Linked DNA regions of Homo sapiens. The protein of the gene in region 4 interacts with the protein of the main gene of each other region in a biochemical or structural test. Each region holds a gene or a part of one and is shown on either strand. Other genes may lie near its edges.

Evidence for each region.
Region 1: of the proteins of LATS1 (region 4) and PPP1R12A, one has a biochemical effect on the other in vitro, tested with the Homo sapiens proteins (one study listed by BioGRID).
Region 2: the proteins of LATS1 (region 4) and MOB3A form a complex in vitro, tested with the Homo sapiens proteins (one study listed by BioGRID).
Region 3: of the proteins of LATS1 (region 4) and PPP6R3, one has a biochemical effect on the other in vitro, tested with the Homo sapiens proteins (one study listed by BioGRID).

The regions. Positions count from the first base shown.
Region 1 is NC_000012.12:79,794,785-79,799,878, reverse strand, and holds part of PPP1R12A (protein phosphatase 1 regulatory subunit 12A), read left to right. Parts: intron 1-1,294; coding exon 1,295-1,385; intron 1,386-2,483; coding exon 2,484-2,684; intron 2,685-2,928; coding exon 2,929-3,097; intron 3,098-4,119; coding exon 4,120-4,241; intron 4,242-5,094. UniProt on the Homo sapiens protein: Key regulator of protein phosphatase 1C (PPP1C). Mediates binding to myosin. As part of the PPP1C complex, involved in dephosphorylation of PLK1. Capable of inhibiting HIF1AN-dependent suppression of HIF1A activity.
Region 2 is NC_000019.10:2,089,014-2,094,107, reverse strand, and holds part of MOB3A (MOB kinase activator 3A), read left to right. Parts: intron 1-5,094. UniProt on the Homo sapiens protein: May regulate the activity of kinases.
Region 3 is NC_000011.10:68,599,471-68,604,564, forward strand, and holds part of PPP6R3 (serine/threonine-protein phosphatase 6 regulatory subunit 3), read left to right. Parts: intron 1-870; coding exon 871-1,024; intron 1,025-2,392; coding exon 2,393-2,499; intron 2,500-3,871; coding exon 3,872-4,022; intron 4,023-5,094.
Region 4 is NC_000006.12:149,679,281-149,684,374, reverse strand, and holds part of LATS1 (serine/threonine-protein kinase LATS1), read left to right. Parts: coding exon 1-1,296; coding exon of another isoform or gene 1,297-1,359; exon of another isoform or gene 1,360-1,461; intron 1,462-2,851; exon of another isoform or gene 2,852-2,914; intron 2,915-3,917; coding exon 3,918-4,500; coding exon of another isoform or gene 4,501-4,508; intron 4,509-5,094. UniProt on the Homo sapiens protein: Negative regulator of YAP1 in the Hippo signaling pathway that plays a pivotal role in organ size control and tumor suppression by restricting proliferation and promoting apoptosis.

The DNA of each region.
Region 1 (5,094 bases), on a different chromosome or scaffold from region 4:
TGCCACATGCCTGGCTAATTTTTCTATTTTTTTGTAGCGACAGGTTTCCTCATGTTTCCCAGGCTGGGCTCGAATTCCTGGGCTCAAGCAATCAGCCTGCTTCAGCCTTCCAATGTGCTGGAATTACAGGCATGACCCACCACACCCAGCCCTACTTAACTTTTGACACAGATTACTTGCTATTGAAAAGGTGCATACCCCGTGACAAGAGGAAACATAGGCTTAAATTTATAAGAAGAAATTTAGTGAGGATAAATGCCAAGTCCTGTTCTTTATATCAGAAAATCAGTTACTTAGAAGTAACATGCTGATTTAAAAGCTGTTTATATATAAAAAAACACTGGAATTTTTTAGAGCACTCAAAAGTATGAACAATAATATGTTGTCTGACGTGTCATTAGTAAGAGCACACTGACAAGAATGCAGGGAGACCGGGCGCGGTGGCCCACGCCTTTAATCCCAACACCCTCTGAGGTCGAGACAGGCAGATCACTTGAGGTCAGGAGTTCGAGACCAGCCTGGCCAACATGGATGAAACCCCATCTCCACTAAAAATAAAAAAATTAGTCGGGCGTGGTGGTATGTGCAGGTAGTCCCAGCTACTCAGGAGGCTGAGGTGAGAGAATCACTTGAACCCGGGAGGCAGAGGTTACAGTGAGCTGAGATCGCGCCACTGCACTCCAGCCTGGGCGACAGAGCGAGACTTTGTCTCAAAAAAAAACAAAACAAACAAAAAAAAGATTTAGAAAGGAATTTGATACCTGTCTTCCAATATTTGAAAATACTGTAGGTAGAGAATAATTTAAAACCCCTTTTAGTAGGTCATTAAGTAAGATGCTTAGATTATCACTTTTGGGGGATGTTTTCAGGGCTGGAGAAGAGGACCTTCCTCAGTTAAAAACAGACAAAAAATTTACTCCTTATCCATTCTGCTTAATTGGGCTAAATGAAATCCTTCTATTTTTTTCAATAGAGCTAAAATTTTTAATCTTCAGTTCTCTAAATCCTTTTTAAAAATGTGGTTCCATCTTAAAATTAAATTACATTATTTTAAAAAATGTAGTTAGGAAGTTAAAATGTGATGTTAAAATATAATTATTAAAATATAACTAGTTCCAATCTAAAAAGAAATTATAAGATTGCATTATTGAATTTCAAAGACCATTTTCTGAAGACTTTTCCTTAAAACTTACTAAGATATTAAACCTGTATGTTTTATTCATATGCATTGATAGATATTTACATTCACAGGTATTGTATTTACAACTAACGATTTTTCAATTTACTACTGTAGATCATACCTCACTCCTGTTAGGGATGAAGAGTCTGAATCCCAAAGAAAAGCAAGATCTAGACAAGCAAGACAATCTAGAAGATCAACACAGGTATAGTTAATGTAATTAATATATAAAACTTACATAAGTAGCATATAAAATATATATACACACACTGACATAAAACAAGTTACCTTTCTCTTTTTCACTTTGTTGTGAAAATATTGATGTCAGTATATAGTGTGAGTAAATCCTTAAAAGGTAAAGGTTGCTGTAGTTATTCTAGTAATTCTAGTGTGAATAAATCCTTAAAAGGTAAAGGTTGCTCATAGCCTTTTGTATGGTTACACTGCTACTATTGTATTTCATCTAATTAGCATATGCCTTTGTGTCTTTTTGAGTATTTTTTAAATCCTTATTCCTAATACAGTGTCTGGCCCAGAGTATTTGGTTAGAATAAATTAATCATATGATGTCTAATAAGTATTTAAAAGTTCTATGAATATTTGGAAATCGGGGGCAGAGAATAGGCTCGTATATTAGGTATAAACAACTAATATGCAAGTATGAAGAAAATGTCATTCAGGCTGGCGATCTCCTTACCTCCGTTTTGCCATTCTGATTATGCTGTATATGATGTATACTTTTGTGTCTTTCTGCTTTCCCACAGTTAAGAAGCTCCACAGTCCAGATTCAGCTGTCTATCCTTACCATTACTTAGCTTTCAAGCTGAACTATTTGCTAGGGCCTTAATATACTTTTTCTGTCTTTATACTTTTCACTTCTTGAAATCTAACCTGTTCTTCAAGGTCAAATCTTGAAAAATTTATCGAAATCTCTTTTAAGCCTTAACAATCATCATGCATGTGTATATAGATACATATACACACATATATATACACACACACAGACATATATATAAACATAAATATTTATAATATACAAACAGTACAGATACTGGCTATTCTTCTCTAGTTTGAACTTGTGGGGAACATTTATATGCATAGAGTATCCAGTACCTATCGTTGTGCTTGCTAATGGTGATTCTTCATAGAATGAATGTAACTTGCTGTTTCCATTTGCAAACCAATTTTAAACATGCATATTTGACTTTTAATGCATTTGTATGTAATATATCTATTTCTAAAATATTCCTTGAAACAAGCTTTAATGCATCTCATAATTATATTGATCTTTTTGTGTGTGCAGGGAGTGACATTAACTGATCTTCAAGAAGCTGAGAAAACAATAGGAAGAAGTCGTTCTACCCGAACCAGAGAACAAGAAAATGAAGAAAAAGAAAAAGAGGAAAAAGAGAAACAAGATAAAGAGAAACAAGAAGAAAAGAAGGAGTCAGAAACATCTAGAGAAGATGAATATAAACAAAAGTACTCCAGAACGTATGATGAGGTAACAGTATATCAAAAGCACATTTAAGTCAAATGGTATGAATAGTCCTTATGATCCTTAACATACAAGAGATTTATATACCAACAAACCATATGCAAAATACTGTAAAGGATTTTAGCTGGAAATTTGAATTACTTTGGCGTGATTAGTATACTACTTTTTCTTTGAAATGAATTTTTAAGTATTTTTATGTTTTTAATTGTGTTTAATGTTTCAAATGGGTTTTGATCTTAATGTTTCACAGACTTACCAGCGTTATAGGCCAGTATCAACTTCAAGTTCAACCACTCCATCCTCTTCACTTTCTACTATGAGCAGTTCACTGTATGCTTCAAGTCAACTAAACAGGCCAAATAGTCTTGTAGGCATAACTTCTGCTTACTCCAGAGGAATAACAAAAGAAAATGAAAGAGGTAAGAATACCAAATTTTGAAAACACTTTGCTTTCTTCATATAATCCTTTGGATTAGGGTTTCCTAAATAATAATTCAACAGTAAAGGAACAGCATCCTAACTTGTGATTCATCGAACCTAAACAGAAAGAATATGAAGGTTGAGAATGAGAAAAGTAGAAAACAGAAATAGAATATGGCCTGCTGTTGATACTAATATTTTTATAACCTAATACTTCACAAAAATCTTCATGTCCACCTACAACGAAAAGTTAATATCGAACTGGTGGGTGACTATTTCTAGAAGCAGTTTACTAGTGTAGTACTTCTCAGATGCTTTAAGCTATTTCTTGCCTACTGTGTAGATCATATCATTTAAATGTTTTTTTGTGAAATTGTTGTAAACTAAAATTACTAACTACATGTAATGCTCTCACTAAAACACATTTTTATGCTTATTTCTTAAAAAATACATTTCTTTCTCAACTATATATTGGCATATTGATACTCATTACCATTTCCTATTATTTTATATAAACTTTCTATTTAAATTCTGAGTAATTCCTACTTTAAATCAGATATAAGTACTAAATATAGGCATTTCATATTTTAAAGCCTAAATCTTACAGTATTAGTCATGATAATATCAGTAGTAATGTAGAATAAACAGCAGAAAATAAAGTTTTTTCCCAATTTCCAGCTATATATTTTCTCATGTTGATCATTGAGATGTTTCAGTTCTTTAAACTTCTATGTGTGAGGCCTGCATTGTGTTTGTAAAAATGTTGAACCAACATTTAAAATTAGAGATACTCACTTCAAACTTCAGATTTTTGCCATTTCTTGAAAAGTTGGCTGACCTGGCAACACTGGATCTGAATTCTCACATACCAACAATTGGCTGGAGCTAAGTAGTAGCAGCTGCCTACCTTCCATCCCCCTAGATAGTCCCCTGGCCCATTTTACCCATTGTTTTTACAATTACCTTGCAAAATATTGTCAAGATATATTGCTATATTGTGGTTCATTGCAATCCTTAACAGAGGGAGAAAAAAGAGAAGAGGAGAAAGAAGGAGAAGATAAATCACAACCTAAATCAATCAGAGAACGACGACGACCAAGAGAGAAAAGAAGATCTACAGGAGTTTCATTTTGGACACAAGATGTGAGAACCTATTAAAATACATTATTTGATAGTATTCTTGATAGTATTCTTAATGTGTCCAAAAATACATACTAATAATTTCTTATATGCCTTAGATTTCATATTCCTTAAATCATCACTGTGTTTTCTGAGTTGTTAAATAAGAAAAATTATTTTTAAGGATAGTTAACTACTTAGATTGTTGGTACTACTTAAAAGGAGTGGTTCTGACCTAATTATGGAATAGAAATAATAATGTCTGAAGCTCAGAGTGCATGTATTGATTATTTTATAATAGGTAAACTGCTTCTTGTAAAAACATCTTTTAAGAATTTCTAAGGAGTCTATTTAATTTCATTTTCATAAATATCATTATAAGATCTACATTACAGATTACTTCCATCTCAAAGCATGCTAAATAGACACAGTGCTTTGCTTATCAAATTACAACAGTCTTGTAAAAATTAGTGTTTTCCTGGTCCTTGATTGTAGGCCTGACATTGCTATTCATTGATTTTGTTTCCATTTTCTAAAAAATAAACCTTTTATTGAAGTATGGCATGTTTAGAAACATAATTCATACATGTATAGCTTAATGGATTAGCACAATAGGAGCATATCTATGTAATCACCACTCAGAATGATGAATAAAAACAGCAGTGTAGATTGCCCCCATGTTCTCCCTCTCAATCCCTATCATCCTCATTTTCAAAGTCAGCTAGTATCCTGATTTCTAACACCGTAGTTAACTATGCCTGTTTTTGAAGAGCATATGACTAGAACTATAAATTTTATAACTGTTATGTTTATAAGATATATCTATGCTATTTTATGTAGCAGTACATTTACTTCTATTGTTATAAAAATATTTTTT
Region 2 (5,094 bases), on a different chromosome or scaffold from region 4:
ACCACTGCACTCCAGCCTGGGCGACAGAGTGAGACTCTGTCTCAAAAAAAAAAAAAAAAAAAAAAAGAACTTACATAGGGAAGGAAGGAGGGCTGGATGAGCCCCCCGGGCTGTCAGAGTTGCAGAGTTGCAGCCCTGAGAACTTCCAGAAGCCGGGTTCTTAACCGCAGTTGTCAGGGACCTGTTTATTAGAACTCACTGAGATCTACCGATTACAGAGTGAGAACTAAGAAAGTGAAATCCCAGCATGTCACGTCCCTGTCCTCCGGACCCCCTGGATGTGTTTCCCTTTCCCCAGGGACGACACAGGCACCCACCTCAAGCAACACCCGTTCCACTGCACCCTTCCCAGCTCCCTCTCTTTCCACAGGTTGATTTTTCTCTTTTAACTCTGGAGCTGAGCTTACTACCTGTGGCTGTGGAGGCCTTGCAATGTGGCTGGTCCGAATTGGGATGTGCTGGCCAGGTGCGGGTGGCTCATACCTGTAATCCCAGCACTTTGGGAGGCCGAGGAGAGCAGATCACCTGAGGTCAGGCATTCAAGACCAGCCTGGCCAACATGGCAAAACCCCATCTCTACTAAATACACAGCCAGGCACACGCTGGACCACAGCCACCCACTGTGTGTTCCAGAGACTTCTCTGGGATTCCGAAAGGCAGAAGTGAAGGCCTCCTCCCAGAATCCCGTTTCTGAAGTCGGATTTGCCTTTTCAGCTTAAGCCATTTGACCTTCTAAATGCCAGGAAGACAGGAACAGAGCTCATCGGCTGAGGAATACAAAATTTACCCGGGCATGCTGGCGCGTGCCTGTAGTCCCAGCTACTCAGGAGGCTGAGGCAGGAGAATCACTTGAACCCGGGAGGCGGAGCTTGCAGTGAGCCAAGATCACGCCACTGCACTCCAGCCTGGGCAACAGAGTAAGACAACGTCTCGAAAAAAAAAAAAATTCCCTTCCAAGGAGGTATCCTCCCACCTTAGGGACCTGATGGTGGAGGTTTCAGAAAAATTCCCCACACAGCTGACTGAGCTTGGGGTTTTAAGGTGGGGAGTTTTAGACCTTCCCCAGCCGATGAGCTCTGTTCCTGTTTTCCTGGCATTTAGAAGGTCAAATGGCTTAAGCCGAAAAGGTAAATCCGACTTCAGAAACGGGATTCTGGGAGGAGGCCTTCACTTCTGCCTTTCGGAGTCCCAGAGAAGTCTCTGGAACACACAGTGGGTGGCTGTGGTCCAGCGTGTGCCTGGCTGCACACAAAAGAAAGCTGAACTTGGGTTTTCTTTCAGACTTTGACACAATACCTTCTGGGGACCATGCCTGGCCTCTTCCCTTTTCCTTTTTTTTTTTTTTTTTTTTTTTGAGATGGAGTTTCTCTTGCCCAGGCTGGAGTGCAGTGGCGCAACCAGGGCCCACTGCAGCCTCCGCCTCCTGAGCTCAAGAGATTCTCGTGCCTCAGCCTCCTGAGTAGCTGGGATTACAGGCATGCGCCACCACGCCCGGCTAATTTTTTGGTGTTTTAGTAGAGACTGGATTTCACCATGTTGCCCAGCTCAGGCAGTCTGCCTGCCTCAGCCTCCCAAAGTGCTGGGATTACAGGCGTAAGCCACCGCGCCTCACCCCCTTTTCCTTTTGAGTATATCAAAATGACTGTTTTTTTCCTTATATACCCAGACTGGGAAAAGTATGTCAGTTTACCACAAAGATTCACAGAGGGTCGGGCGCTATGGCTCATGCCTGTGATCCCAGCACTCTGGGAGGCCAAGGCAGAAGGATAGCTTGAACCCAGGAGTTTGAGACCAGCCTGGGCAACATAGTAAGACCCCATCTCTACCAAAAATACAAAAGTTAGCTGGGCGTGGTGGCGTGCACCTGTGGTCCCAGCTACTTGAGAGGCTGAGGTGGGAGGGTCATTTGAGCCCAGGAGGTTGAGGCTGCAGTGAGCCGTGATTGCACCACTGCACTCCAGCCTGGGGGATAGAGCGAAACCTCATCTCAAACAAACAGGCAGCTAAAAAAAAAAAAAAAAAAAACCTTTCCTTCCAGACACAATAGTTCCTTATTTTTTTTCATGGTTGTAGCAATTTATTATTCTTTCTTTCTCTTTTTTTTTTCTGTTACAGACAGAGTTTTGCTCGTCGCCCAGGCTGGAGTGCAGTGGCACAATCTCGGCTCACTGCAACCTCCGCCTCCCAGGTTCAAGCGATTCTCCTGTCTCAGCCTCCTGAATAGCTGGGATTACAGGCGCCCGCCACCACGCCTGGCTAATTTTTGTATTTTTAGTAGAGACAGGGTTTCACCATCTCGGCCAGGCCAGTCTCAAACTCCTGACCTTGTGATCCACCTGCCTTGGCCTCCCAAAGTGCTGGGATTACAGGCATGAGCCACCGCACCCCGGCTTTTATTCCTTCTTTAACAAAAAAGGTCTTAGAGCCTGGGCGCAGTAGCTCACGCCTGTAATCCCAGCACTTTGGGAGGCCGAGGTGGGTGGATCACTTGAGGTCAGGAGTTTGAGACCAGCCTGGCCAACATGGTGGAACCCCGTCTCTACCAAAAATACAAAAATTAGCTGGGCGTAGTGGCGGGCGCCTGTAATCCCAGCTACTTGGGAGGCTGAGGCAGGAGAATTGCTTGAGCCCGGGAGGCAGAGCTTGCAGTGAGCCGAGATTGCGCCACTGCACTCCAGCCTGGGTGACAGAGCAAGACTCGGTCTCCAAAAAAGAAAAAAAGGTCTGGGTATCCATACTGTTTTGCAACTTATTTTTTGCACTTATCGGATATTGGGTGTCCTTCCGTGTCAGAGCCTGTGTCTCATTCTTCTTAAAACTGTGTGGCCGGGCCGTCCTGGGTTACACAAGGATGAGAAGTCTCCTCTGGGTTGAGAGGTTTTGGCTCAAGTTTAAGGCTTTTCTTTCCAGCCAGATGGGCTTGGGAATGACTCTGCAGGAAGCGCGTGTTCCCCTGATCTGGCCAGCAGCCGGCACTGGAATCTTGGTTGTAGGGTTACTTACTGCAGGGGTCAGTTTCACGGAGGTTTCCCTCCCTTTTCTTCCCCACAGGTTGTGGGTTTTCTCTTAGGTCTTCTGGCTTTAATGCAGAGCTTTATATTCAGCTTATTAGTTTTAAAAGTGTGTTAAAATAATGCACGTATTTTGGCCGGGCGCGGTGGCTCACGCCTGTAATCCCAACACTTTGGGAGGCCAAGGTGGGCGGATCACGAGGTCAGGAGATCGAGACCATCCTGACTAACACGGTGAAACCCCGTCTCTACTAAAAATTCAAAAATTAGCTGAGCACGGTTGCAGGCAGCTGTAATCCCAGCTACTCGGGAGGCTGAGGCAGGAGAATGGCGTGAACCCAGTAGGCGGAGGTTGCAGTGAGACGAGATCGCGCCACTGCACTCCAGCCTGGGCAACAGAGCGAGACTCCGTCTTAAAAAAAAAAATAACGTATTTGTATCATTGCTATGTTTAATGTCGTATTTCATTGACCATAAGTCCCACAGGGAAGGAGGAAGTTGTTACTTCCTGTGTGGGGCTGGGGCCAGGGTCTCCCCCTGGGTATTGAGTCATTCTCTGGGGTGGAGTGTCCTGGGCACTGCAGGGTGCTGAGTAGCGTTCCTGGCCTCCACCCACTCCATGCCAGGAGTTCCCCCAAAACCTGACAACCACAGATGTCCCCAGACATCGTCCGGTGTTGAGGGGCAGAATCTTCACCGTGTTCAGGCCTGTGGGGGCAGGGGGCAGGGTGGTCTATCCCTGACTCAGCCCGCCAACATCCTCTGGGCCACGAGGCAAATGAGAAGAAAAAGGAAGTGGTCGGGGGTGTGAGCCACTCCAAGCACAGACAATTCCCACCGGGGACAAAGGGATGGGCTGAGCTGGGACACCTGGGTGGGGAGTCGCACCCTACGTGCCCTGGAGAACCAAGGCAGCCTGAGTCACCATGCCAGCTCTGCCGGGCTGCAGATGCTGGTTTCAGAAGCGCCTGGCAGCTGCGGAGCTCTGGGGATGCGGACTTGGCTGGGCTAAGATGGATCGGGTATCGGGGCCCCCAGAATCCCCTCAGTGGAGTCCCTGGTAGATTAGATCAGAGGGGAAGCTGCCAATCTAGCTGAGGTCTTGCCCCAGGGCAGTTTTGCCCCCAGGGGACTTGGAAATACGGGGCAGTGCGGGGGGTGCATTTGTGTTTGTCACAACTAGAGGAGGGGCTGCCCCTGGCATGGAGTGGGTGGAGGCCAGGGACATTGCTCAGCACCTGCAGTGCCCAGGACAAACTCACCCAGAGAAGGATCCAGCCCTGAATGCCAAGTGGGGGACTGCATTAGTTATTTGGGAAAAAAAAATCAAGTCTGCTCCCTGCTCACACCAGACACCAGAATAAACTCCCAATATGGCAGACGGTGTAAACCAGGGGACCTCAGCTCCTGGGATTCTCTTCCTCTCCCCCTCTGTGGATTTCAATGTGTGTAGCCTCCTGGGACCTCAGCAGAGCAGAGGATCATGGGCCACGGAGTCTCTTGGGGGTCCGTGGAATCCCCTAACCCAAGAGGTGTCAATTGAGGGTAATTCTGCCCCCAGGGGACACTGGGCCAAGTCTGGGACATTTGTGTTTTTCTCATGACTGGGGGTGCTCCTGGCATGGAGTGGGTGGAGGCCAGGGACGCTGCTCAGCACCCTGCAGTGCCCAGGATGGCCCCTCCCCAGAGAGTGACCCACGCCGATGTCCACAGTGCAGAGAGTGGAAACGCTGCCCTAGTGGCAGACGCAGCAGATTCAGAATTGAAGGATCTGAGTTCAAGCCCAGACTTGTACCTTTTACCTCCCACCCTCAGGCGAGGCAACTGGCCTCAGCTTCTGGACGTGCAGCACGGGTGAGCCCCTCCCGCCAGCCAGGAAATGATGAGTTTCACGAGAGCAGGTCCTCCAGGGCCCCAGCAAATGCCAGGCCTGTTTACTAATGACAGCAAAGGTCCACCATCACTTAGCAGGAATGAGAGCATTCGCTTTCAGCCTGCCCTGCCAGCCTCACAGGGCTGCGGCATGAACCCCTGTAGGGTTAGTTTATGAGTGCGTAGGGAAGTGCTCCCCAGAAAGCAGGAG
Region 3 (5,094 bases), on a different chromosome or scaffold from region 4:
GCCAGACCTGGTTCTGCAGGACTTAGGAAGCCTAACTGCAGTGCACTGCAGGGAGCCCGCAGAATGGGCGAAGTGCAGTCAGACCCGGACTGGGAAGCATTAAGGTTATTTCTAGTTTATTGGAGTTGAATAATCAACATGTTCTTTTTTTAGAAAAATAACCTTTTTACTTTTGAATAATTTAGATTTATAGAAACATTGCCAAGATAGTAAGTCTCCATATATCCTTCACTTAGCTTCCCCAAGTATGAATACAGCCATGGTACATTTGTCAAAACTAAGAAATTAACATTAATCCCTCTTTGTGCATGTAGCTTTGAATCTCTGTGTAGTATTTCTTTTGGAACAGTTGTTAGAAATGGGAGGTTTGAGGCCAGGCGCGGTGGCTCACGCCTGTAATCCCAGCACTTTGGGAGGCCAAGGCGGGCGGTTCACGAGGTCGGGATATTGAGACCATCCTGGCTAACACAGTGAAACCTGTCTCTACTAAAAATACAAAAAATTAGCCAGGCGTGATGGCGGGTGCCAGTAATCCCAGCTACTCAGGAGGCTGAGGCAGGAGAATGGCGTGAACCCGGGAGGCGGAGCTTGCAGTGAGCGGAGATCGTGCCACTGCACTCCAGCCTGGGCGACAGAGCGAGACTCCATCTCAAAAAAATAATAATAAAAAGAAATGGGAGGTTTGAGAATGTGGGATCATTGTTAGAGTGCCCTCCAGGTGGCTGTGCCCTGTCCGCTCCTGCCCTCATTGGTGAGAGTGTCTTTCTCCCACAGCTCCAGTCTCTTTTGCTAATGTGTTTTTGATAAATACCTTGTGGTACATGAAACGACTGAAGTGTTTTCCAAATAGAATTTCTCCCCTCTTTTTAGCACCCAACTGGTCAGCTAACTTTGATGTCCCAATGGAAACAACCCACGGTGCTCCATTGGATTCTGTGGGATCTGATGTCTGGAGCACAGAGGAGCCGATGCCAACTAAAGAGACGGGCTGGGCTTCTTTTTCAGAGTTCACGTCTTCCCTGAGGTGAGCGAACATGTGCTGTCTCTACACCCTTCCACGGGGGACCTGGGAATGGTCAGGTGTTTGCTGTTAACGTGTGTTCTTCACCTTGACTGACTTCCAAGTTGAATATACTGCCCTGAAAAAGATTAAACATCAGCATACTAACACAGCTCTGTGTTGTAAGAAGAACAATCACCATCTTCCTTTCCTTTCCTCCTGGATTAATTGGAAATGGGAGTAGTTCTTGAACAAAGTAGCTTGTGAGGATGCGGTCCCAGGGAGTTAGCAGGACGCAGCAGAAGATGCATCTCCGTGAGCTTTTCTGGCTTCATAGAGCTGTCAGGACAGAATTGAGGAGAAGAGGAATGAGGTGAAGCCAAGAAATCCTGACAGGCACAGCACCTCTGTGTGGGGTGTGGCAGGCAAACAAAATGGATCTTGAATTCAGTAGATAATATGAACTTACAGTTCACTTGCAGCTAGTCCAGTGCTGTCAATTAAGGGCTCCCAATCATTGGTAACTCGGAAGATAGGAAGACAAGCTGTTTTGGGCTGACAGTTAGTGTCTTAGACAAACCAAAGAATAGGCTGAAACCCATGTTGCTTTGTAGTAACCATAGTAATAGCATTAAGTTACTACTCAGAGGTACAAGTGAGATTTGTGAAAAATGTCTCCAAAATAATGAGTTATTTCGTCTACCCCGCTTTTCAGTACAGGACATACATTTCCGCCTACTCCTTTTTTTGGTCTGTTTATAACCCGAGGATAAGAGCCTTTGGTTACTTGAGGGTGTGATTGAAGCAGCTTGCTTCTCTTTACCCTCTGTGTGCACGTCTCTGAGTTTGTGGGAATGAGGGATAAAAGAGGAAGTGTAATGATCTCCCTCACCCCTACCCCTTACTGCTCAGGCATTTGGTGTTTTTTTACTATGTTTCCACAGTTCCAACAACAAATATCATTAAGAGGGCCAGTCTCTCCCAGGCAGTGTGGCTGAAAATAAGTAAAGGTTTTTGTAAAACCAGTCAACCTGATAAATACCGTTGCCATTGCACAATGTACGTCTTTGCTGTTCAAGCTCTGGGAGCCTCCTAGTGACTATGGTGGGATGAGAAGTTGGGACATGATGAGCCTGTCTAGAATGCTTTACAAAGTCCCTGTCTTACTGCCTTGCTGGCTTAACAGAACATTTGCCTGCCCGCACTCATGTCCTTCTTCAAACAGCTACTGGCACTTAGATCCATGTGTCACTGGAGTTTGTAACCCAGTGACTCTTACACAGATGCTAATGTCTCCTAACAAAAACTTACTTGTAAAGGCTTATTGTGAATCTTGGGGTAACTGAGGACCATTCCCTGCTGCTAATATCTGAATTTTCTCTTTTTTGAAAGCACAAAAGATTCTTTAAGGAGTAATTCTCCAGTGGAAATGGAAACCAGCACTGAACCCATGGACCCTCTGACTCCCAGTGCGGCTGCCCTGGCAGTGCAGCCAGAAGGTGCGTGCAGAGAGGCCTGGGTACACGCCAGGGTCACGTGGCTGCTTTGTCAAACCAGACCTGATTCTCAGGCTCAGGGGCTAGTGGAGCCCGGGAGTGAGATGGTGGGTCTGATGTCCACAGGGCAGCTGATGAAAGAAATTGTGCCTGTCCTTCTAGAACCACAGCATGCTGACTCTGGAAAGAGTAAGGGCTCTAAGTTACCAGGCATGCAGTGTGCAGATTAGGAAACTGAGGTCTAGAGGGAAGAAGGCCTAAGCCCATAGTACCCAGGGTGAATAAAACTGGAATTAGACGTGTGCAGCCAAGCCTGTGTGTAGTTGTCCCTTGGAGTTTGCTTTGCTCAAGCATGTAGGTGTATCTGGGTTTGTTTAGAGCTATGGGGCTGGTTATTTTCACTTCGCCATTGTAAGCAGATTGAATAGTCCTGGGAATCTCTAAAGTTCCAGTGGGTTTTCCTATTACTCTACCTAGTCAAATGTGTTCCTTGCACGGCCCTGAACTGTTTTCACCTTGATGGACGGGGCTTTGGGAGGAGGGGGATGCTAGCAAAGGGAGTGTGATGGGAACCAAAAGGATGTGGAGGGCACGAATCATGAGGTGGGCTTAAGGAGTGAGTTCTTAGAAAATGAAATGAGGTTTTGGTAGAGGGTGTGAGAACCCTCCTTCCCAGGGGCAAGGGAAAGGAATAAAACCAATAACTAATGCTGGTTTCATCATCCTCCTGAACATTTGATACAGATTCCCGCATTTGACTCCTCAGTGGTTCTGTAAGTGGGTGCACTGATCCCCTTTCCTGGATGAGGAAACTCAGGTTATAGATGAGGTTCCTTGTCCAAGTAGTCTACAGCTAGGAAGTGGTGATGTCGATGTTTGAATCCAGGAAGCCTCACCTCAGCCAGGCTCATCACCTATGTTGGCTTCCCATTAGAGAACAAAGAAACGATCCACCAGCAACACCACAAGAAAGTAATTTTTAAAACAAAGCAAAGCAAATAGAGCCCAACTGAGGAAAACAAGTGAGTAGAGGGTAGAGTGTGTAACTGCCTGCTCTGCCCCACACTGGAACAGTTAGGAGCACAAGTGTCTGCTGGGAGAAGCTGGGTATGGAGGTGGACGCTGAGCTGGGAGGGATGTAGGCGACTTGCTAGTCTCTAGTAAAGAAAACCCATGAAACCCCTCTTTAGTGGGCATCTTTAAGAAGTCTCTCCCCATCAAGAATGTGGCCCAGACAACAGCAGGCAGAAGCCATCTCACTCTTTTTTTTCTTCAAGCAGTAGATGTCACGTTGGGTAGATGGGTTTGTACAGTGGTGGGGTGCCAGTTCCTTTTCGGGCTTGCTGTGTGTGACCATCAGCTGTGTTCTTTTCAGCGGCAGGCAGTGTGGCCATGGAAGCCAGCTCTGACGGAGAGGAGGATGCAGAAAGTACAGACAAGGTAACTGAGACAGTGATGAATGGCGGCATGAAGGAAACGCTCAGCCTCACTGTAGATGCCAAGACAGAGACTGCGGTCTTCAAAAGGTAACCAGGGGTGAGATCCTGCTGGTAGCTTCAGGTTATTGGGAGGATGGTGGGGCAGAAACCTCAAACATTAAAATTTTTAATTTGATTCAAATGAATGTTCAGATACTAGCTTGATGTCTTTCTGTTGTCTCCATTAAACACAATAAATCTTAATGAAGAGATGGAGAGTTTAGGCCCCTAAGTGCCTTTTCCCCCATAAATGTGTTCAGAAGACTGTATTTTACATCTAGCAGTTTGATAGAACTATGAGAATTGATAAATCTTTAATCACAATAGAAATTGGCTTGTGTAACAGGCTACAGAGCATGGCCCATGAAAACCGGTTTCAGGTCGACTGGTTTTACAAAAACCTTTACTTATTTTCAGTAACATACAGATGATTATCTCAGGACATAATGCAGTCATGAAAATTCAGTAGCAAAATGATAGCTTTAAAAGAACGTGACCCTTAGAAATTCACTTCTAAACTCAAAAAAGGAATTGTAATGGATATTAAAAACCTAAAACTGAGAGAATAATGGGAAAAATGTCTGTCAAAACTTAAGGACTGAAGCTAAGCCTGTGCTTAGAGCTTTAGTCTTAGAGACCATTCCAGCCATTACAAGAAGGAATGCCTCCCTGCTTATTGCGAGGTCACTACAAAACAAGGAGTGAAAGAAGAAAACTGACTGTAGACTGATTTCATACATGAGCAATTATTCTCAAAACTTAAGTTAAAAGCTAGCAAACCAAATGTAGCAATGTATTTTAAAGTCATGACCAAGGATATGTGCTCCAGTGACACAATGTAAACACCAGTGTGTACATGGTAAAAATTATTCAGAGTAATTCCCAGACAAAAGGAGAAAAGCATTTGATTACAAATTAAAGCTGTTCATGATTTTCTTTGCAGCCTAGGAATAGAAAGTAAATAGGTGAAACTGGTAAGTATCTCTAGAAAATCTAGAGTAGACTTGATTCTTCAGTGAGGCATTAGAAGTATTCCCTTTAAAGACAAGAACCAGAAAGTGGGACCTACAGTTGCTATTTGTCTTCAGCACTGTGCTGGTGGCCTTAGCAAATGCAGCAT
Region 4 (5,094 bases):
CCACCTCAAGTAAGGAGTGTTACTCCTCCACCACCTCCAAGAGGCCAGACTCCCCCTCCAAGAGGTACAACTCCACCTCCCCCTTCATGGGAACCAAACTCTCAAACAAAGCGCTATTCTGGAAACATGGAATACGTAATCTCCCGAATCTCTCCTGTCCCACCTGGGGCATGGCAAGAGGGCTATCCTCCACCACCTCTCAACACTTCCCCCATGAATCCTCCTAATCAAGGACAGAGAGGCATTAGTTCTGTTCCTGTTGGCAGACAACCAATCATCATGCAGAGTTCTAGCAAATTTAACTTTCCATCAGGGAGACCTGGAATGCAGAATGGTACTGGACAAACTGATTTCATGATACACCAAAATGTTGTCCCTGCTGGCACTGTGAATCGGCAGCCACCACCTCCATATCCTCTGACAGCAGCTAATGGACAAAGCCCTTCTGCTTTACAAACAGGGGGATCTGCTGCTCCTTCGTCATATACAAATGGAAGTATTCCTCAGTCTATGATGGTGCCAAACAGAAATAGTCATAACATGGAACTATATAACATTAGTGTACCTGGACTGCAAACAAATTGGCCTCAGTCATCTTCTGCTCCAGCCCAGTCATCCCCGAGCAGTGGGCATGAAATCCCTACATGGCAACCTAACATACCAGTGAGGTCAAATTCTTTTAATAACCCATTAGGAAATAGAGCAAGTCACTCTGCTAATTCTCAGCCTTCTGCTACAACAGTCACTGCAATTACACCAGCTCCTATTCAACAGCCTGTGAAAAGTATGCGTGTATTAAAACCAGAGCTACAGACTGCTTTAGCACCTACACACCCTTCTTGGATACCACAGCCAATTCAAACTGTTCAACCCAGTCCTTTTCCTGAGGGAACCGCTTCAAATGTGACTGTGATGCCACCTGTTGCTGAAGCTCCAAACTATCAAGGACCACCACCACCCTACCCAAAACATCTGCTGCACCAAAACCCATCTGTTCCTCCATACGAGTCAATCAGTAAGCCTAGCAAAGAGGATCAGCCAAGCTTGCCCAAGGAAGATGAGAGTGAAAAGAGTTATGAAAATGTTGATAGTGGGGATAAAGAAAAGAAACAGATTACAACTTCACCTATTACTGTTAGGAAAAACAAGAAAGATGAAGAGCGAAGGGAATCTCGTATTCAAAGTTATTCTCCTCAAGCATTTAAATTCTTTATGGAGCAACATGTAGAAAATGTACTCAAATCTCATCAGCAGCGTCTACATCGTAAAAAACAATTAGAGAATGAAATGATGCGGGTAAAACCTTTTAAAATGTCCATTTTTATACTTAATCATCTGTTTGCTTGGTGTTTATTTTAAAATATTGTGTCCAGTATTTTTCTTTCTTTTTATAGCTAAATAAAATATATTATCAGTTATGGAATTTAAAAGTGAATAAATATTAAAGTACTTTTGATTGTAGCATTTTATTTTAGTATTTCAATATTTATTCAGAATTTCCTATAATAAAATCTCGTGTAAATTAAGAAAAATATAATTTGCGGTATACAGTTTAGGTGTACATAATACCTTTATATGAAAATTGGAGGAAGGGTTGTCTTCTAGGCTTCATACAATATCTTACAACATTTAAAAATAAACTAGAAATATGTGGGTCTCAGGCTGGGGCATGGGGGCTCACGCCTGTAATCAAAGCACTTTGGAAGGCTGAGGCAGGCAGATCATGAGGTCAGGAGATCGAGACCATCCTGCCTAACACAGTGAAACCCCGTCTCTACTAAAAATACCAAAAAAAATTAGCTGGGCATGGTGGCGGGCGCCTGTAGTCCCAGCTACTTGGAAGGCTGAGGCAGGAGAATGGCGTGAACCCCGGAGGCGGAGGTTGCAGTGAGCCGAGATCGCGCCACTGCACTCCAGTGTGGGCGACAGTGAGACTCCGTCTCAAAAAAAAAAAAAAAAGAAAAAAGAAATACGTGGGTCTCATCTCTTGATATACTTATAAAACATTTACTTTTAGAAAATTTGGAGTTTATAGGTTTATTCATCACATATATCTTATTAAAAAGTGTAAAGAAGTTTCCTTCAGTTATATCTCCCTTCTCATTTCATTTTTATAATATACTGGAGAAAAATGTGCTAAAATTATTTAGTGAAACTATACTAAAAGGGAGATCAGAGTAAGTAAACACACTTTAATCTGTGTTGTCATTCCACATAGATCTCTAGATATTAAGGTAGTACGATCATCATTTTTTTTTTTTTTTGAGACGACATCTCACTCTGTCGCCAGGCTGGAGTGCAGTGGCGCCATCTCAGCTCACTGCAACCTCCGCCTCCCGGGTTCAAGCAGTTCTCCTGCCTCAGCCTCCCCACTAGCTGGGACTACAAGCGCCCGTCAGCACGCTGAGCTAATTTTTTATTTTTAGTAGAGGCGGGGTTTCACCATGTTGGCCAGGCCGGTCTTGATCTCTTGACGCCATGACCCACCCGCGTCTGCCTCCCAAAGCACTGGGATTACAGGCATGAGCCACTGTGCCTGGCCATTATTGTTTTTATCATATGCTTAGAGTTCAAAGATTTGACTCCTAATCTTACATCTGTCACTCACAATCCAAGAGGCTTAACCTTGTGATTAAACACCTTTATATACTTGAACCATTCTTTTAAAATGATTTTAATAAATCTGATTTTACAGTATTGTTATTTCTATTTTATATTTTATTAAATGAGAAATACCATAATAATTTCTATGACTTATCCATATTTTAATTCTTAGGATTTCTTACTAAAGTCTGCCTATGTGTATTTTCTTAGTTTATTTTTCCTTTTTCCTCTTCACTTTCACTAATAGCTGATTTAAACTTTTATGGTGTTGGAAGCTTTGCTGACTTCTGTAGTCTCCATTACTGTGTAGGCAAGTAAGATTTTAAGAGAAACAGTTCTGAACTAAGTCTGGCATGCCATCCTTCTTAAAAGATTTTGCATGCAAATGTGAATCCTAACAGAAGCATGTGGTTGTTCTATTTTAGTCTTGTATTTCTAGAATTAGACCCCACTTTTCCAACTGGATTTCTTTTCTATTTAAACCCTTTAATTAATTCTTTATTAATTAGCCAAAATGTTTCTCCCTTCTAAATCCAGGCATTCCATATCTATAATACTTAGAAGTTAGTTTTTGTTTTTAATCTATTTTTTGATATTTTCATGAGTCACACTGAAGTATTCCTAAGTATCCAAAGGATATCTTGTAAACAACCAGGTTGTTCTTTTCGAAGTAGGAGAAACCCTTTGCAATTTGTGTTAGTGGTAGACTGTGAGTCGCACCTTTACTCTGATGCCCTGAAAAATAGAAAAGGAAAGATTATTAATGACTGTTGTATATTTATTGAGAATAGGGAAAGGATTGGTGGGTTAGAAAAGGCATTGTTTTGTTGTTCTTTGGTACATTAATTTTTTAGAATAAATGAGCCTGGAGTGGAAGAATTTTTTTTCATGAAAGACAAAATAGGAAGAATATTTGAGGCCTAGGCATTCCACCAAGAGAAGCATATACAGAGAGATAAATGAATATGCATGTTAACATGTTAACAGATGTTTGTTGCACATTGAGAACCTTTTTTTTTTTTTTTTTCGGAGTGCATTAGAGAAGAGTAGAAAGCTTACTCATCTGGTACCCTCTTCTTGCACTCCACAGCTGAATTTGCATAGGTACTCACTTTGAATATCCTTTTAACTACCCCTTAGGCTGCACTTTTGATCATTAATTTCCTTTGAAATGTTTTCTAGATTTCTAACATGCTTTATTAAAAATTATGCATTTAACCTTTAAATATATGCCTGAATTTTTCCCAAGCTATTTCTTAATATTCAATATTGAAGAAGATAATTCTTATTTAACATCTAGTTTATTTGCCTAGGTTGGATTATCTCAAGATGCCCAGGATCAAATGAGAAAGATGCTTTGCCAAAAAGAATCTAATTACATCCGTCTTAAAAGGGCTAAAATGGACAAGTCTATGTTTGTGAAGATAAAGACACTAGGAATAGGAGCATTTGGTGAAGTCTGTCTAGCAAGAAAAGTAGATACTAAGGCTTTGTATGCAACAAAAACTCTTCGAAAGAAAGATGTTCTTCTTCGAAATCAAGTCGCTCATGTTAAGGCTGAGAGAGATATCCTGGCTGAAGCTGACAATGAATGGGTAGTTCGTCTATATTATTCATTCCAAGATAAGGACAATTTATACTTTGTAATGGACTACATTCCTGGGGGTGATATGATGAGCCTATTAATTAGAATGGGCATCTTTCCAGAAAGTCTGGCACGATTCTACATAGCAGAACTTACCTGTGCAGTTGAAAGTGTTCATAAAATGGGTTTTATTCATAGAGATATTAAACCTGATAATATTTTGATTGATCGTGATGGTCATATTAAATTGACTGACTTTGGCCTCTGCACTGGCTTCAGATGGACACACGATTCTAAGTACTATCAGAGTGGTAAGTAAACTCATAAAATTTATTTTAGTTTGTTCATAATAATGTAATTTATTGATGTAGTAAAATATAAGATGGTATCATCACTGGATGAGAGCCAGAAGATGTGGGTCAGGTCTTGATTCTGTTGGATAAACTTGGGTGACTCCATTAGGCACTTAGACTTATGAAATGAAAGAATGTGCTAGACTTGATTGTTTAGACTTATGAAATGAAAGAATGTGCTAGACTTGATTGTTTCTAAATATTATTAACATTTTTGAGTCACACCTTTTACATTTTATTTGAAAATATGCCAGACAAACAATTTTTTTTTTTTTTTTTTTTTGATGGAGTCTCGCTCTGTCGCCCAGGCTGGAGTGCAGTGGCACCATCTTGGCTCACTGCAATATCCCCCTCCTGGGTTCAAGTGATTCTCCTGCCTCAGCCTCCCGAGTAGCTGGGATTATAAGCACCTGCCAGTACGCCCGGCTAATTTTTGTATTTTTAATAGAGATGGGGTTTCACCATGTTGGCCAGGCTGATCTCGAACTCCTGACCTCAGGTGATCCACCTGTCTCAGCCACCCAAAGTGCTGAGATTATAGGTGTGAGCCCC